Regions from separate parts of the Homo sapiens genome. Here region 1 is linked to region 2. Evidence: fine-mapped expression QTL. A gene starts in region 2. The other region holds a variant in brackets. All regions are shown on one strand. Distances are from middle to middle.

What was found. PIP is the estimated chance that this variant, and not a neighbour inherited with it, causes the effect.
Region 1: its variant is fine-mapped to the expression of KLF7 in whole blood (INTERVAL, PIP above 0.99).

The regions. Positions count from the first base shown.
Region 1 is chr2:207,078,698-207,084,072 of GRCh38, forward strand. It overlaps KLF7 (KLF transcription factor 7), which reads right to left. Exons shown (of 4, transcript NM_003709.4): 4 at 1-2,567. The coding sequence ends at 2,516. Among named protein-coding and RNA genes, the nearest start is that of MIR2355, 29 kb to the right of the region's middle. The variant A/ATGTG (reference allele first, on the strand shown) is at 2,364.
Region 2 is chr2:207,163,117-207,168,491 of GRCh38, forward strand. KLF7 (KLF transcription factor 7) reads right to left here and starts at 2,832. Exons shown (of 4, transcript NM_003709.4): 1 at 2,351-2,832. The coding sequence starts at 2,452. MIR7845 (microRNA 7845) reads left to right here and starts at 3,284; the gene lies at 3,284-3,382. RefSeq lists enhancers at 425-1,133, 1,134-1,842, 2,444-2,543, 2,551-3,259, 3,260-3,967 and 1 more and silencers at 3,034-3,673, 4,294-4,343.

The sequences.
Region 1 (5,375 bases), 84 kb before region 2:
AAAGTTTCATCTAGTGCACTGACTGGAGGCGCTACAGTTTAATACAGCTGAGGTTCAAGGTCCCTCACACATCCTTCATCCAGGAAGGATGCACCACACATTCAAATATAATCCCATGGTACGCCCTGATGGACTGGCCACAAAATGCACTCAAATGCAGCAGAGAACTACGAGATTGTCAGCAAGCAGTGCTCCAGAAATTGTTTTTAAGTCATGTCTAGTTTTAAATCTTTGGAATAAAACTGATTTTTAATACCCTCCAACTAACATACATACAATTGCCTCCGGCAAATGGACAGATTTTGTGTGTGTGTGCGCGTGTGTGTTAACGGGTGTTCTTTCTTTTTTTTTCGTTTTGTATTATTTTGTTTTTTTTTTTGTTTTTGTTTTTGTTTTTTTTGGTCTAAATAGAAAAAAGGAAAAGGAGAAAGTAAATTCTTAGGGCCAGACCTCGAAATGCCCCAAGTGTCCAATTGGCAGCTATAGCATTTGTGAGGAGGTTCCTTTGCCCTCAGACGAGTAGTTTCAACATTTCAGTGAAAACAAAGGTTGCAGAAAGCTGAAAACCCAGATCTTGAAGGTTGCTGTCATATATGTGTTTGTGTTTCTTATATTATTTCCTTTTGACTTCAGTTTTGCATCCCAAATATGTATGGGGTGGCATTTTAACAGTCAATGAGTCAAACAGTCAAAGGAGGACAGGAGGGGAGCCAGCTGGTAGGAGGGAGCAGCAACCGTGTGTGGACCAAGCGCCATTTTTGTTTTATAGACGTGTCTTGAAGGGATGGTCCCAGAATATACAAAATATACAATCTGTCCTAATAACCACCCCGCTTGCTTGCATAGGCCATTTGATGGTCCTAAAGGCAGTCTTTGGAGTTGAGGCCAGTGCCAGCTAGCTAGGAATGCGGGTAGATAGAGACCACTACTGGATGTGTGAGTGTGGCATGACAAGTAAGGACTGTAGACTCCTTTGGAGTCAGCTTGCAGAGTAAATGTGAGGCCTCTGTTAATCCTGGGGGTTCTAGGTCACAAGTCATGGTGGGCCTAGCCAAAAAAAAAAGGAAAGAAAGAAACGTGTCTCTCCTTTTAGACAGCCCATGAGAGAAACACCTCAACCTTTTCCTTAAATGTCAACCCTTCACTCCCACAATGGCGTTTTAAATTGTGTATTGTAACACGTAGGGGAATAGGAGCTCAGTGGGCATGACAGAGAAGACAGGATGATCTTTTGTGAAGCCACTAGACTTGGGAGGCATCCTCAGTTTTCCCCACTCCTGGAAAGAGTGATATTTTTGGCTTTTTGTCAGGTCATAAACCAGAGTTAAATTAAATACGCAGCTGCCCTCTGAGACTAGCGACATCTATGCTGTAACTGGTTATGGGGTAGCAATGACACACAGCACAACGGTTGATCACTATGAGCTGAGGTCATCATGCCTCAAGGAGGATGAGAGAACTGTGATGTCCCATCTGACTGGCTGCTTCGAGAGCTGGACATCCAGGTGCCGAGAGAGTCCTGGAGAGGTTTAGTCCATGGAGAAAAGATAAAACATTTAAGCTTCCAAATAAGCTTTTCAAGTTTTCGTTAGCAAAAACGGAGAGATTAAAAAGAAAAAATCTAGCACTGGCAATAAGGTGAGGCTCAAGGGATATACTGTGATTTATCATCAAGGACTTTATTCTCTTGGCCACTTTGCAGTCATGCTAGAAGTTTCCAGAATCCCTAGTGCATATGGTGTGCAAAAGTCAAAACGTAAGAAAAGAAAACTCCTCCCTTGAGAGTGAAGTCTACAGAAATGCAGGCCAGAAAGGTGTAAGGTGTTATTCCAGTCTGCCGCCGCTAAGGCCGTTGGGATCGACGCGAAAGATCTCAATAGTACTAAGAACCAAAACCAGTCAACAGTTCTGTGAGGAAGTCTGACGCACGGAATAGTAGGACTTTTCACACACAAAGGACAAATAAACCAAGAGTTAATTTTGGCTACCAAACTGCAATTTGGTTTTCTAGGTCATTTTCCCCCAACTATTTAAAAAGAAACATTAGTGCTACACATATGCAACTTTAAGATGCTGGATTCTCCTATCAAGTTGCACTGAGAAGCAAGTGAAATAAGCCCCTCGGACTGCCGTCCACCTGCACAGACGTCACATCCATTTTCTTTGATTTCCATTGGCAACAGCGGGAAATAATTCCAATAGTGCTGAAGTAAGCAGCCAGTCTGCCTTGCTGAGTTCACCTGGTTTCCTTCTTCATCTTCTTCCATCTGGCTAGGGCAAGGCATAAAGAATAGACGTATATATTTTAAATATAGTTGAGTGCATGACAGTGTGTATGTGTGTGGGTCTGTGAGTGTGTGTAT[A/ATGTG]TGTGTGTGTGTGTGTGTGTGTGTACAGAGGTTTATAAGTGAGAACTTTCTTCTGCGAGGCAATGGGTCCCCGCCTGAAGTCCAGCCCCCTGCCTCATGGCGTTTCCTTTAGACACTAGCCGATGCCATGGCAACTCTGGCCTTTCGGTTTTTTAGATATGTCTCTTCATGTGGAGGGCAAGATGGTCAGACCTGGAAAAACACCTAGGAGATATAAACAACAAGGATATTAGAGAACTCCCAGCAAACAGCTTGACTTGCATCACTCCTTAGGAAATGATTTCCCTTACTTTAAACAGAGACAGTGCACATGCATTGAGAAACAGGGCCATGTGTTGGGAAGGTAAGTTTAAGGGACAAAATGTTTGGGTTTAAATCCTATCTCTTCCAATAGCTGTGTGACTCGGAGCACATTAACCTGTCTGTACTTTAATTCCTCCTCAGTAGAGTGGGGATAATTATAGCATTTACCTCATAGGTGGGTTGTGAGGATTAAATGAGATGATCTATGCAAGGTACTTAGAATACGGACTGGCACATCGTAGGATCTCAGTGCATGTTAACTGTTATGATCATAATTGTGATTATTAAAGAAGAATGGGAAAGTGCTTTTGAAACCTGTGTCATGCCTGCATACTGTAAATATAATAAAGAATAATTAGTCTATATCATCAAAGGGTGGAACTTTGAAATTTCAACACCCAGATTTCAACCCTAAACTTTACAATGAAAGCCTAGAAATACTGCTTGTGATACTACTTACAGGCTTATCAGACACTCTATATTCAAGTCAAAAAAAAAAAAAAAAAAGGATGAAGAAGGGTGCTCACAGTTATTGAGTATGTTACGATATGTAGGCACTATGCTAAGGGTTTTCCCAATATCACGCCATCCTCACCAACCCTCCATGGTAAGTATTCTCACGCTTTGTGTGTGTGTGTGTTGGGGGCAGAAAGGAGGGGGGTGAAGGAAACTGAGGCTAAGGTGTTTCTTGGAACCTAAGGCCCATAACTGAGTGCCTTCTTCATGTCAGAGTGGATCCAGTGGTCATCTTCTTTCCTCTTTCCTCTAACACCAGCTATTTGATATTCTCTTGGGTACCAACCCTTCTGCATTCTCATTTGTGTGAGGCTGAAGTTGTGGCCACAGTACTCTGCTAAACAACAGCCATGTGACCTGTAAAGGCCAATGAGAACCAGCCCTGGGACATCTGCTGAAATTATTGGAAGAGAGAAGCTCTCTTTCCACTGGGATCCTGGAGTGACTGGTGTCTATACTGCCCTTGTGGTAAAGAGTTGGCTGGAGAATGAAGTCAACAGAGAAAAAGGGGTTCTGGGGGATAGAAAGAGTCCAGATGATAATATCAGAGAAGCTGGATCCAACGAAGCCTAAAGACAAATCTAATTCTGTTCTTCTTAGTTACCTGAGCGCATAAATACCCTTGGAGGCTAACTGCAGTCTATAACATACAGAAACCTGACAGTATGGGTGTTTCCAAATCCCTGCAGGCTTCAATCTCAGGTTCTGAATGAAATCCCAGTGAAGTCAGCCTACATGACAGCAGTCATTCTGAGCTCTGAGTGTATGCTCTCCCCCTGGATCATTCGCCTGAAACTAGCTGCTTTCTAACCTATGAGAAAGTTCCCAGGCTCCCTGAAGCCTGAGACACCCCTACAGTCCAAAACTCCTGTCAGAATGTTAGCAAGCTACACTGTTCAGGTTAGCAGGGTTTCCTGTTCAGGGCAGGATTTCCCTATGTTTGTTCATTCTTAAAACAAACAAAAAATATCCACCCTTTCCCTTGACCGCAACATTCTCCACACCCCCTGTTTGTGTCCATTCCTTAAATAGGCACATGTGTAGGATAGAACTCCAAGGGAATGAAGTGAAATGGGACAAGAGTAAAACGAAAACCACATAAAAATGCGAAAAGTACAACTGAAAACAATCTAATCCAATAACATGCTGCATAATAACAATTCCAATTATACCCACTTACTTCCAGCCCTGACTTTGTATGAGGAAGATATTTAGATAATCCCTTAGCGATGCCTCTAAAGGGGGTTTGGTTTGCAATAAAACAGTGTCACTAAGTTTTCTTTAAAAACTAGTACTCCATGTCACTGGTACACAGAAAAATCAATACAGCCCGCAGGGAATTTAGCGTCTAACTGGCATAATTCATGTCCTGAGGGTACAACTCAGTATTGCCCACTGCCTGTTCTCTTTCCCTCTCTCCCTCTCTTTCTCCCTGCCTTCTTTCTTCCTTCTTTTTCTCTCTTTCCCTCCTTCTTTTATCCCAACAACCTGGAGAAAGAAGATCCAAGTTGGGACATTCTGTTTGTAGGTATTTCTTTTTTAAATGTAACATCCTTATAAGATCCCTATAAAGAAGGTACCATTCTTATTCCCACTACCAGATGAAACATTCATCAGAAAGAGGATTTGAACACAGGCAGTCTGACGCCAGAGCCCACACTCTTAGTCACATCTGCTTAACCACATTGAGGAGAAGAGAGAACTGGGCTGTCAATTTAAGGAGCTTCTGGTAGGCAGAATAATGCTCCCTCCAAAATGTCTACACTTCATGCCCAGACACTAGGACTATGTTTGGTTACATGATAAAGAATTAAAGTTGTGGATGGAATTAACTTATGAATCAGCTGACATTAAACAGGGAGATTATTCTGGATTGTCTGGTTGGGCTCAATGCCATCACAACGGTTCTTAAAAGTGGGAGAAGGAATTGATAGAACCAGAGAGATGTCAGCATGAGAAGGACTCAACAGCTTTAATGATGGAGGAATAGCATCATGAGCCAAGGAATGTGGGCAGCTTCTAGAAGCTGGAAAAGGAAAGGAAATGGATATTCCCCTAGAGCCTCCAGAACAAAAATGCAGCTCTGCCAAAACCTTGAGTTTAGCCCAGTGAGACTTGTGTTGGACTTCTAACCTAGAAGTTTCTAACCTACAGAACTGTAAGACCATAAACTTGAAAAGTATATAAACATGA
Region 2 (5,375 bases):
TGTCATCAGTGTAAACCTATGGTCCTAGTCGCCTTTATATAGAGCAGTTGTGATTACGGAGTCCAGAACATAAAGCTCACTGGAGTGATATATTGTTTATTAGTGCTTCCCCACAAGCTATGCATCAGCATTGGCTATAAGCATGACGCTGAATAAGTTGGCTAAGGGTTTTAAGGTGAGAGTGGCTGGCAGTTGGAGAGGGTTAAGGCAAAAAATGAGGGGGTTCCGAGGGGTGAAAAATCCTTTGCCTGTAGAAACTAAACTAGAGCTTCCCTGAATGGGGAGGAGGCAGAGGAGCAGGGGGAGGAGGGGAGAAGGAAGAGCAGAGATGGCTTCTTAGGAAACAATAGATCTAATACATCCTCTAGTTGTCAAACCGATGATGTTTCTTTGCAGATCTAGAGTTTGTCCTGGATGGTCTAGCCAGATCTAGAAAAGCAGGTTTCCTGTGAAGAGACCTTCCTCCAAATCTGGCTTTACTACTCTGAAAACTTGAACCAAAACAAAGTTGCATGATTCATCAGTAGGGAACGTTCTAACAAATAAAGCCAACTTTCTTCCTTCTAACACTGCTTAACAGTTAGTCACAAACAAGGGCTGCCTTGGGCAGGCTGACTAAATCAACAGATTCCCTTCTCTAACCTGTCTAGACAGTTGTTAATATGCAACCGATTCCATACCAGTGGGCTGACAGTGTGAAATGAAGGCTATTTCAGAAGATTTTGGTTTAATTAGCATTGGAAATAAAAGGAAGAAAAAGATCCAGTGAGACCCTTCATGAGACACACTCTCGTTAAGGATAAGGAAAAGGATGCATTGAAGAAAGACTTTATTCTAAAAATATGTGAACTGTGTATGTGTTTACAGAGAGACAGAGTCAAGCATCTGCTAGCGTCCTTGGACAAGAATGCATGTGTGGACACAGAGACACCAGACGCCAATACCTGGAGGAAAACTCACAGCCTCTGACCAGAAGTGAACTAGCAACAATGGTACAGTTAAAGGATCCGCCTTGCCACTCGGCTCCTTATACCAAAAGCCAAACCTCTTTTGCTAAAGCAGAGACTGTTACATCTCAGCCTCAAGCTGGCAAATCCTGCTTTGGATCCCGGCAGAGGAAATTCAGCCGTTCATTAGCCTTAACAAGCTGCTGTCACTAAGCGAAGAAATTACACGAGCAGCCACACACCGAGCCTCTCACAGCCCTCCCCCCAAGGGCAAGCGGGTTTCTCCAGGACGGACTGTACAAGTTCACACTTCCTATGTGCAAATCCGGACTGTCTTCTTGGACTTTCCATGGTGCACACTGTACAATTTTTAAATACCCGTGTCCCCCCGCCCCCACCCACCATCTTTCCTGCAGAATGTCCCCTCAGCAGCTCCTAATCGCTGCTGAAAAAAACCACTGTTTCCGCAGCAGAGCCAGCACTTTCCACTGACCAGCACTTTCTTTATTCCACTTCACAAAGCCCAGTGAACTTGTCACCAGCCCCACTTCATCCTCCCTGGGACGGCTAGCCAACTTGGCATCGGTGCCCTTCAGCATCCTGGGAGTTTCTTAACTAGTCCTCTAAGACAAAGTCAAAGGCATGGAAGCACACATCAGCCTTTGTCCGAGGTTGTGCTGCCTAACTAGAGAAGGACCCTAAACAAAAAAGAGAAACAAGGACACGCATAGAGGGTGTTCTCTTTCTGGAGGGATCACACTGGGAAAACCTACAATTCATTGTCAGCCTCAGCTACATCTTCCCGTCCTCCTTGAGTATCTTTTGTCAGTGGGCTCTTCTCTCTTTTGCCTACCTTCTAATCTCAAAATCAAGCTCCTATTCTTTATTGACACTCGCTAATTACTGAAAAACACTCCGCTTTGCTCCTGCCCACCCTCCCCCGCCCCCCATCCGATGGTCATAAGCACCAGTTGAAACAGATGAACCTGATTTCAGGTATCAAGTGGGTAGAGCTCATGCATGCGAGAACGTGGTCCCTGTCAGCAATCGCTCCTAACACCCCAAACCACCTTCCCACCCGGCTCCTCCGAACCCCAGAAGTTCGGCAGGTCTCTGATAGGGGACAGCAAACCCGACAACGTGTGCGCAGGGATGTGTGTTGGCGACTGAAACGCAGGCAGCTCGCACCGGCTGCTCAGCTCGGCACTCTACGAGGTTAGGGGTGGGTGGAGAGGTAAGCGCAGATGACTGTTTCAGAAAACATTTTCAACAACAGACAGCCAAAAAGGAAGAAAAAAAAGTCAAACAAACAAACAAAAATTTCAACCCAGAGCCCACACCAACGCAGCCCCTGCGTCTCCGCCGCCACCACACGATTTACACAAGTAATTTAAATCATTCACCTGCTGCCAGGTCTCCTCCAGGGATGGTAAAGCTGAGAAGTAGCCGGTGTCGTGGACAAGTTGTAGCTCCTGGAATATACTATAACTAGCCAACACGTCCATGCTGCTGCTGCCGGGCAAAACGGGAGGCGAAACCCTCCCCCGAACACAGTTGGGGCTGTTTGTTTGTCAGTCTGTCTGGCTCACCCCCCAAGAAGGCAGACATCCAGTGGCCCTTTTGTTTTGTTTTGTTTCAGTCAACTAAAAAGGAAAAAAAAAAATCAATGCAGGAGAGGGAGAGAGGAGGTGAGAGAGGAGCGAGTGAGTGGGGTGGATGGAGAGAGGCATCCAGCGTGTACAGTGCAGACGACTGCCAGGAAAAGGGGACTTCTCCACGGGAGTAACAATTCCCTTCCAGGGCTCTAATCACTCCAGCTCGTGGATCAGGAAGGGGGATGCAAACTCACTGACACGAAGCTGCCATCTATTTCTGCAGCGCTGTTCGCTCCTAATGCAATCTTTGCTCTTTATTTTGGGAGGTTGCATTTTTTTCTCTCGCGATCGCTTCTCTTCCCCCCCCTTCCCTTCCCTCCCCACCCCCCACCCCATCCTTGCTAGTTTGTAGTCTTCCCCCTCCCTTTTCTCCTCCTCCTGCTCTTCCCCCTCCCCAAACTCCCTCCCTCCGTTCGGTTCTCCGCGCAGCCGTGGGATCTCGAGGAGGGCGTCCATTAGGCCGCGTGTGACCATGTAAGGTAAACAGGGGGCTCATGAAGTCACTGAGGACCAATGGGGAGCCCGGAGCAGAGCCTGGGGCGGGGCTTGGCCCTGGCGGCGGGCGCGGATTGGCACGCTGCGGATCTCCCTGCTGCCTTACAAGGCGGTGCGAGGCGAGCTATTTTTAGAGGGCTATATAAGGGGGCTGAGGCGGCCGCCCGGCGGCCGGGCAGCGCGAGCGCAAGGGACAGGGAGGGTCGTGGCGACACTCGCGCCAGCTCCCGGGACGGCTGGGCTCGGGCTGGTCGCCGACCTCCGACCCTCCACTAGATGCCTGGCAGAGCCCGGCGCGTCCGGAGCCCGCGCCCCTCAGAGGGAAGGGGTCGCGCGTCGCCGCGGCGGCCCTGAGGCTGACGGTCGGGAGGTGAAAGGCCGGAGTGCGGGGTCAGGACGCCTCCTGGAGGGGGCGCGGCGCAGGGGGCCGCGGGGAAGCCGCCGAGGGCGCGGAGCGGGAAGGAAGGACAGTGGCCACCCCGCCTCCGCCTGGGCACGGGGCAGGGACCCGCGCGAGGCGGTGCCGGGGAGGTCCTCACGTACTCAAAAACAAGCAGAAAAGGCATCCAGGGCCCCTTCCCGAACTCCCCACGGGCTGCCAGGGTGCAGAGAAGAAGCGCCTGAGGAGGAAGTGCCACACAATGGGAGAGAACAAAGGGGAGCGGAGCGAGACCGCGGCCTGCGCCCGCCCCCCGCTTGCGCACAGTCCCCGCCCCGCCCCGCGGGCGCCGCCGCCGCCGCCCTCCCTCCCGCGCCTCCTTCTGACCCCGAGCGAGAGACCTGGTCGGGAGTCCGGCGGCTAGAGTTGATTGCAAGGGGCCTGTTGCTCGACTGTGCGTTAAAGAGGCTAGAGGGAGCCTAGGTAGACGTGGGGCGCAAGCTGGAGCCGGCAGCTTGCGAGGGGGCCTTTACGTGATGAGGCTCACCATGGGGTCTCCAGCGAGGTGTCTGCAGAGCTTCGATGGTGAGAGGAGGAACTCGATTTCTCGTTTTCTGGAGTTGGGATGTAGACATAGAGAGATCTGTTACATCTGAGATGAAAACCCTGCACAATTCACGTTAGGGTTGGCCAATTGTTTGCTTGACCTTAAATGGTTAGTGTGGTTTAAGCTTCCCCAAAATGCGCTGTGAGCTGAGCTTCCACTTTTGGAATGATTGCAGAATTCGGTGCTTAAGAGATGAGAAACTTCGTTCTACCAGTAATGGAAGAAACGCTTCACCTTAATCACCCTCCTTGTCTTTCCCCTCCCTTTGACTATGTAGGACTCGATAACACAACATTTGAAAGATTCTACTCTATGAAATAAGCACAGATTGAAATTCAGTATTTGCCAAGGAATATTAAACATGAATTACTGGGATTGAGGAAAGCCTGATTTATTTACTTGTTAGTGTCTGGAATTCTGTTGGCCAGATTCATAGCATTCATTGTATGAGTATAATTGGAACATTTACTCTAATGTAGATGCAGATGCATCTGCAATTAGATGTGCAAGGACGCTGCCAGCTAACTAGCTGCACGACTTTGAGCGAATTACTGGGTCAGAACTTGTATCTACCCATCTCAGAAACAGAAATAGTGGGATCCGCGTTGTCTAGTTGTTATGAAGAGTCAAAATATCTTTGGTAACTCACCTAGCATAGTATCTGACACTATTAGGTGAATACTAAATATTAGCTATCATTGTCTCCCCACTTGAGCTATGTAAACTAATAGGACCTTTAGGAGAATATACTATTAATAGAATCTTGGAGATAGAGGAAAGGTAGAAACCCCTTGCTAGTTTGTTACAAGGTCTCCCCTTCTCCATGCTCTCCCCTGACCCCCATGCTATTTCAACTGGGGGGATGGGCAGGAACCATTGAGAAACACTAGGGCAAAAAACATGTTCATGAATAATAGGGGAAGGAAAGGAACTTGGGTATAGAAAACTAGAGGCAAAAGGTGAGGCAAGACCAACCATATAATTTGGTACTTGAGACTCAAGTGAACTTATTTTGTGTGTGTTACATTATAACAATTTTTGAATAAAATAGGACATATCGGTTAACGTGAGTTTGAAGATTTTACAAATAATAGTTCCCATTTATTAAGCACTTCGAATGTGCCGTATGCGCATAAACACTTTATATGCAATGTCTCATTTAATCTTAAGGACAGCCCCAAAGTATCCCCAACTTTATGGATGAAGATACCCACGCTTGGAAATACTAAGTAAGTTGGTCAAGGTCTCACAACCTGGAAGTGGTCAAGCAGGGGTTCAAATCCAAGAGCATC